Linked DNA regions of Homo sapiens: region 1 is linked to region 2. Evidence: fine-mapped expression QTL. A gene starts in region 2. The other region holds a variant in brackets. All regions are shown on one strand. Distances are from middle to middle.

What was found. PIP is the estimated chance that this variant, and not a neighbour inherited with it, causes the effect.
Region 1: its variant is fine-mapped to the expression of HSDL1 in whole blood (INTERVAL, PIP above 0.99).

Annotation. Positions count from the first base shown.
Region 1 is chr16:84,067,176-84,071,175 of GRCh38, forward strand. MBTPS1 (membrane bound transcription factor peptidase, site 1) reads right to left here. Exons shown (of 23, transcript NM_003791.4): 13 at 3,413-3,601; 14 at 2,691-2,863; 15 at 1,164-1,279; 16 at 492-648. Among named protein-coding and RNA genes, the nearest start is that of SLC38A8, 26 kb to the left of the region's middle. The variant G/T (reference allele first, on the strand shown) is at 2,025.
Region 2 is chr16:84,143,024-84,147,023 of GRCh38, forward strand. HSDL1 (hydroxysteroid dehydrogenase like 1) reads right to left here and starts at 2,154. Exons shown (of 6, transcript NM_031463.5): 1 at 2,057-2,154. It overlaps DNAAF1 (dynein axonemal assembly factor 1), which reads left to right and starts at 2,285. Exons shown (of 12, transcript NM_178452.6): 1 at 2,285-2,541. The coding sequence starts at 2,418. RefSeq lists silencers at 1,579-1,628, 1,679-1,728, 1,889-2,338.

The DNA of each region.
Region 1 (4,000 bases), 76 kb before region 2:
CAGAGAGTGGAAAAGAATTAAACAGAAGTTTAAACCTGAAGTATCTCATATCTAAGATTAACAAGGAAAGACAATGAACCCTCTATATTATTAACAGTACTCATACTCAATAAACATCTTACTCTATGAGCAACTTTCAAGAACCTCTCTACTGTATAAAGGACTATTTTCTTTTTTGTGTTTTATTTTTTCTCTTTGAGATAGGGTCTCTCTGACACCCAGGCTGGAGTACAGTGGCTTGATCTCAGCTCACTGCAGCCTTGGCCTCCCAGGTTCAACCGATCTGCCCAACTCAGCCTTCCAAAGTGCTGGGATTACAGGCGTGAGCAACCGCACTCAGTCGAAAGGGCTTTTTTTCTAATCAAGCTCTCTGAATGTGTCTGTGCCAACTGGAAAGACCACCAACAGGTCAAATCATCACTTAAGTATTTGCTGGGTAGAATTTGATTCCCCAAAAGTCTTATCCAAATACCAATGCGTATCAACAGTACCTTGTGTTTTCATCATAAAACTTCACTTTTCTCATAACAGAAGTGTTGTACCAGTCACTGAAGATGACGAGCGAGAGGCCGTTGTCCACGTCCCTCCGGAGCTTGGCGATCTCTTCAGGGAAGTACTCCTCCTCACTGTCCACCATCAGCAAAGTGCCTGATGAACAAAGAACCAAAGCTGGGAACTGTCACTTCTGAATGACAGGACACCACCACGGCAGAAACAGTGTCACCAGGTACATGTCTCAGGTTACTGACACCTAACAGTCTGGTTTGTGCCACCCTGTACCACTTTAAAAGGGACTAAAAAGTAGAGGACCAGGATCCAGCAATACACAGCGACTAACTGTGATCTGATTTCACTTGTGGTGCTCAGGATAAAGATTTTCATTCACTTGAGAAGGAGCAAAATATATAGCAGAGCTGCTTTTAACTTAAAGAAAAAAGAGTACGAATGTCCCTGTCTCCAATCAGCCTGTCTTGTATTTCAGCTGAATGTCACACCGCCACCACCTGTTTCAGAGCCTCGCCCCAGGCTCACCCAGCTGTGGGGCCCACGGCGCATACTCCCTTGGTAGCTATCACTGAAAACTGGGATTCACTCCTCAGACATTTAACAAACATCCAAAGTGGGCGGAAAGACCATCTGGCTAGCACAGCAGTGCCACTTACCATACTGACTGGCATCAAAACACGTGAAGGGGGCCCCGAGGACCTCTACAAAGTAGCCCATGCTTCTCAGATGCTGGTACATATCCCTGAAATTGGTGTGGATGTGATCACCATTCCTGAAAAACAATAGGCCACAGCATTAAAATGATCGATCTTTACTGGCAATAAAGGCATATCTGGCCACAGGGCCGGCTCTGCAAGAGCACCATGCCATGGCCCACAGAGAAGGCCTGGATGGCTGGCCCACTGGCACAGGCATCAGCTTAGGAGACCTGTGTGCTCTGGTCTGGACACACGGAAATGGCTGATAAGAAGAAACCATGTGCCTGGCAGGTGCATGAAAGAGACAAAATGACCAGAAGAAATGGCCAAAGACATGTTTAATGTGTCCTGGACCATCACTGTAGCAGTCGCGTTCAAGTAAATTGCTGGCAACCATCTGTGTCTGACAGAAGAGCTTAGCAAATAGCCGCGGGAGTGCAGGGACGCTGGAACAAGCCACGCAGGGCCACGGTGCTAAGACAGCGGCACAGCTAACTGATATCACTGCCACTGGTCAACTTTCCATCCCCGTCCCTCCCAAATGAGCTCACTTTCCTATGGGACACTGTATACACCCTCTAGGGGTCACCTCATTCTCACCTCCCAGCAGCACAGACTCCAGGTCCTCTCCTGCAGGCCAACGGGCTTGCCTTGGTCTATGAACTTCCCACCACTTCCTGTCTACCCGTCTCTGGTCTGAGCCCCTCCAATCTGGCTGCCAGAGACATCTTATTTTAAAAGGCAAGTCTGACTCTGTAACTATCCTGGTCACATCTTTCAATGCTTCCCCTTCCCCTACTTTCAGCATGGAGTTCAAAC[G/T]TAGTCCAAACATAAAAGCAGAAATGAGCTTGGCTAATGCACCAAGAGAAAGTCAGCCCAGCTGCCCTGCAGGGAACAGGCACAGGGAGAGCGGCTATGGGGACTGCGGGGGAAGCAGTGCCAGCTTCTGAAGGGCTGCATGGGTCACACCAGGGGGCTTGGCCGGGTGAGGAAGTCAGAATAGGCAGTCACTGGAGAGCTTGAGGCAAACTGTGTTAGAATTTGTTTTAAGATTACCAAGGTTGCCAGAAGAGGAGTGGAATTTAGGGCAACAACAGCAACAGCAGTGGCACTCAGGAGCTGCTGATGTGGTCCAGGCAAGAGATGACAATGGCATGGACTAGGGTGGGAGCAGGGAGAAGGCCAGAGATGGAAGGATCCAGGATGCAGTTTGAGGGTAAGACTGACAGCTTTGCTGACTGGCGCAATGGGAGAAGGAAGGAAAAGAGAACTTCAAGCTTTTTACTGCATAATCATACTTGTGAAAGTTTCAAAAGAGAAGTCAGGCTGCCCTAAGTGCATGGCAAAAGCCTGAACATCTCAGCGTCATCAGAGTCCAGGCTCCACGAGAAGCTGAGCAACATCTTTCCAAGAGTTGCGGGAACAGTGGTGCCTCCTCCCACCACGGAGGCTGGGGAGGTGAAGTGCATCCTGTGAGGTGCTTACCAGTCTAAAGGGTCATTCTTCATCCTTAAATTATCCCTGGGGAAATAGCCAGGTGGATAGCGGAGGTTGTGGTACTGATCCCAGAGAACTCTCTTGCTTCGCGGGGGAGTAGGAATTATCTTCACCTTAATGGGGAGCTTTACTGTTGAAGTCTGTTCTGCACCATTTTTTGACTAAAAAAAAAGAAAAGAAACTTGAAACGCCCTCATTGTGCAGAAAGAAACTTTCAGGTTTGAAAACATCATTTCTATTTATCAACTTAACCTAAATAATTTGAACACAAGAATTTCCAATAACAAATGTCTGATGAAAGATTCATGTATCATAACTAAGTCCATTCAAACACTTAAAGAGTTTAACAGTTAAAATTTAAGGCATATTCTATCAATAAAAACTACTAGAGCCTCATAGGATTAACCCTACATTTCCTTTTAGAGAATGTATATTTTTGGTGCACTCCTTTTGAGCTTGAAATCTGGTAGAAAACAGTCTTCTCTGCTGTTGTGTGGCCACAGAACGGCAAGCCCTAGCACTCACTGACTGAGCTACTTCTTCAAACTCCAGCTGCTCCGGAGGCCCTGGAACCATCAATTGTGGCCATCGAGGATAAGCCTATCTGTCAACTGTACTTCCAATGGAGACCCCAGGCATTTGGCCTGTCCCTCCCTGAAAGGTGATGTCAAACAGCTAAGAAAACAAGCCACTTTCCCGCATATCCCTACCTCTGTCTCTGCTGGGGAAGCCACAGTGATCATGACATGGCCCTGAGCAATGCCTTCCCAGGAAGCCGCTTTCTTGGTCACAGAAATGGAGATGGCCAGGTAGCCCGACCAAGGCCATAAGACCGAGGAGTAGGAGAAGGCAACTTCAATGTTGTCTCCGTTCTGTGGCAAATAGGGCTGCCAGTCAGGCTGCAGGAAAAAGAAATCAGACAAAGGCTAAAGTGAAAAGCTCCAGGAGAAAACACGTGGAAACCAGAAAAACTCAATTCTTACCAAAACTGGTTCCGAGAAATACTTCACTAAATAGGGAAAAATAAAATTTATACACAGATACTAAGTAACTACAACCAAAGTAGCCTATGGACTGCCTCGGACGTATCACTAGAAAAGTCTAGAAACCACTATTTCTGACAGCTTCCAATTTTATGGAGACATTTTTTTTCTATTATAAAACAGGAACTTTTGTCAAAAGTTCTTTGATGAAAAACTTCATCTGACTAAGAGAACTTATATAGATGAAAACTCTCAGATTTAAGGTTATTTCCCAATTAGTTGTATGCTTTAAAAAAATCCCATTAATTGAAAGCA
Region 2 (4,000 bases):
GATCCAACACTCTTCACCATCATGTCTGTATTTATGCAGTAAGAATTAAAATATTCAGAGTACCCCACTCCTAGGCAGATACCCAAGATAATTAGAAACTTTTGCTCACATAAAAACTCCTGCTTGCATGTTCACAGTGGCCTACTCACAACTGCCAGAAGGCAGAAACAAACAAAATGTCCATCAACAAATGAATGAATAAGCAAAATGTGGTGTTATCCACACAAAGGAGTATTATTCAGCCATAAAAAAGCATGAAGTACTGATACATACTACAACATGGATAAACTTTGAAAACATTATGCTAAAGGACAGAAACCAAATACAAAAGGCCGTATGTTGTATGTTTCCACTTGTATGAAATGTCCAGCATAAGCAAATCCATAGAGACAGAAGATAACTTAGGGCTGCTGAGGGACAGGGGGAGAAAAGAGGTATGACTGTTAATGGGGTTGGGGTTTCTTTTGTAGGTGATTAAATGTTCTGGAATTAGTTACTGGTGATGGTTGCATAGCATTGTGACTATAGCAAGAACTACTGAGTTATACACTGTAAAATGGCTAAAATGATAAATTTTATGTCATGCGTAAGTCATTTCGATTTTTGAAAACCTACTTTAAAAAAAAGTAGCACCAATATGTTCAACTCTGTTGCCCTAGAATATTCCAGCAGTGATTAAAACCACAAACTTGGCCGGGTACAGTGGCTCATGTCTGTAACCCCAGAACTTTGGGAGGCCAAGGCGGGCAGATCACTTGAGGCCAGGAGTTCAAGGCTACCCTGACCAACACAGCGAAACCCCGTCTCTACTAAAAAAAAAAAAAAAAAAATTAGCTGGGTGTGGTAGAACGTGCCTGTAATCCCAGCTACTCGGAAGGCTGAGGCAGGAGAATCACTTGGGCCCGGGGTGCGGGATGGCGGGCAGAGGTAGCAGGAGCTGAGATCGCAGGCACCATTGCACTACAGCCCGGGCGACAGAGCGAGATTGTCTGAATCAATCAATCAATCAACACCCTCCCCCTCCCCCTCCCTCTCCCTCTCCCTCCCTCCCTCTCTCTCTCTCTCTCTCTCCTGTGGCGGTCAGAGTAAAATTGAGAGCTCACTTTATGCAAAAGACTCTGCTAAGTGCTTTATTCCTATTGTCTCACTTTATTCTCTCATTAATCTTATAAAGCGCAGTCAGACTCTCCCGTTTATAGATGGGGAAATTGAGTCTTATAGATGTAAAGTCGCACACCCAAGACCCCACAACTCAGAAAGGGGCTACCTGCAATTCAGATGGAGGTATAGCAAGGCGCAGAGTCCTGTCCAGGGAGCCCACTGTGAGACCCCCCGACTGCCTCGCAGTCACCTGTACACATCATGTTGGGATCGCCGAGGGGCGCTGCAGCGATCCGGTTTCTGGGGCTGCGTCTGGGTGGCACGTTCAGAACGGGGACCTGCCTGGTTCTTCTTCCCAGCCCTTCCCCTCCAGCACCCGGCAAGGCCCAGTCAACACGAGCAAACTCGGAAATCCTGGCTGAACCCACGACCGCTGCATATTTCCATTTTAGAAAAACACGGCAACAACAACTCAAACCAAATCGTTCAGAAATGAGAATAAAGAAGCACCGACAAAGGAGGCGATTGCTGGGGCCGCTCGGGGGAGGAGCCGGGTGAGAGGCTGCAGGGAGGGCAGGGCATGCGCCGGCGACAACGGGGTTCGCGGTTTGGGGGGCAAGGCCCGGGGGAAGAGAGAGAACAGGGGTGCAGCGCCGCGGCGGGGGGCGTGAGGATGGAGCCGGGGGAAGGGGGGCTCTGAGATGTGAAGGGGCGGGGCTGGGGCTTTTTGGTCTGAAGGAAGGAGTCTCACGGGACGGAGGGACGAAGATTTCCTGGGGTCAGGGGCGCCAAGGGGCTTCGGGGCCGGATGCAGCGGAGGGGGCCCGGGGCCTGGGGGGCGTGGTGAGAGCTCAGAGGGGTCTCGCCAAGCAGCCGGCTGGCGCTGAGGGGACCGAGGAGGGGTCTGGGGCGAAAGGACCGCGAGAGGGCGCCCAGGGCGCGGGGGGCGCGGTACCTGCAGGCCGGCAAAGTCTTCCAAACCGGTCCCGCCAGACCCGCGCGGCCGCCGCCCCCGTCTCGGCCGCCGGAGCTGCTGCCGCGCCGCGCCCTCACGTGACCCGCGTACGCGCCGGGGGCGGAGCCGTCTCAGACCCGCCCCCACCCCCCGGCGTCCCCAGCGCGCCGGTCCGTCCCGAGTGCGCGTGCGCAGCGGTTGCCTGGGCGACCGGGGAAGCGTTGGGCTGTAAAGACTAGGGCGCCAGCGGCTGGCGAAGAAGGAAAGAGGGTACTCTCTGGCTGGGCTGGGGCCGTAGCGACGTCCGCCGCGAACCTGGGCCCCCCAAAGCTGCGGGGCGTTCGGTGTCGCCGAAGTAAACATGCACCCTGAGCCCTCGGAGCCTGCGACAGGTGGTGCAGCAGAGCTGGATTGCGCGCAGGAGCCCGGCGTGGAGGAGTCTGCGGGTGACCACGGGAGCGCAGGCCGAGGGGGCTGCAAGGAAGGTGCCGACTGCCCCCCAGGGAGGGCGGTGGGCGAGGGGCAGACACGGCTAGGCGCTCCAGCCCCCTTCCCACACCACATACCCGATCTTCACAGCCAAATAATAACAATAATAATAATGGTAGCAAGCAACGCTCTGCAGTAGGGGCTTCTCTCGCCATTTCGTACTGAGGAGGAAACATACTTAAGAGGTTACAAAACTTGCACCAAACAGATAACCCTCGGCTAGTCAGTGACAGAAGAGACTTGGCCGGGTGCGGTGGCTCAACGCCTGTAATTCCAGCACTTTGGGAGGCCGAGGCGGGCGGATCATCAGGTCAGTCAGGAGTTCGAGACCAGCCTGGCCAACATAGTGAAACCCTGTCTCTACTAAAAATACAAAAAATGAGCTGGGCGTGGTGGCGGGCGCCTGTAGTCTCAGCTACTTGGGAGGCTGAGGCAGGAGAATCGCTTGAACCCGGGAGGCGGAGGTTGCAGTGAGCCAAGATCTCGCCATTGCATTCCAGCCCGGACGACAGTGGGAGACTCCGTCTCAAACAAACAAACAAACAAACAAGCAAACAAAACCCACCAGACTCAGGCCCAGACAGTCTGGGTCTCCAGAGCCCCAGCCCTAACCCACCACGCTATTCTCCCTGGTCCCAACTTTGATGCTTTAAATGTGTCCCTTTATTGCTATCACTATGTAAGATCAAAGGCTTTCTCTCCCTCCAGACTGCATGTTGTGTCAGGGCAAGACATCTTGATTGAATTTGGAGTCTAGTCCAGTGCCTGACCTAGGGTAGAGAGTCCGAATGAAGACTTGGTTCTGGGGTCAGTGTGTGATCCCCTCACCAAAGTTTGCCAGAATGGACTTGAAAGATAACCTTCATGGCCAGGCACGGTGGCTCACGCCTGTAATCCCAGCAATTTGGGAGGCAGAGGCAGGTGGGTCACCTGAAGTCAGGAGTTCGAGACCAGTCTGGCCAACATATTGAAACCCTGTCTTTGCTAAAAACACAAAAATTAGCAGGGCGTGGTGACGTGCTCCTGTAATTCCACTTACTTGGGAGGCTAAGGCAGGAGAATTCCCTGAACCCCGGAGGCAGAGGTTGCAGTGAGCCAAGGGGGAGGCTGAGGCTGCAGTGAGCCAAGATCACACCACTGCACCCCAGCCTGGGCAATGGAGCAAGACTCCGTCTCAAAAAAAAAAAAGGAAAGAAGGAAGCCTGGCTTCAGCTTCTGCTCCCACTAGACTTGGTGCCCTAAAGGAAACCTTTTAGTGATTACATTAAAAAACCACTTGATTTGTGTTCCAGTTTCTGAACGCAGGCAACAAATAAACCAGCTGATTTGTGTTCCAGGCAACAAATATATCTTAAGCATCAACTGTCCAGATGAACCTTGTATGAGGAGCCATAGGGAACTGGCATTACTCAGTGGAAAGACACTGGTCTTGGAGCCATTGACACTGGGTTCAAG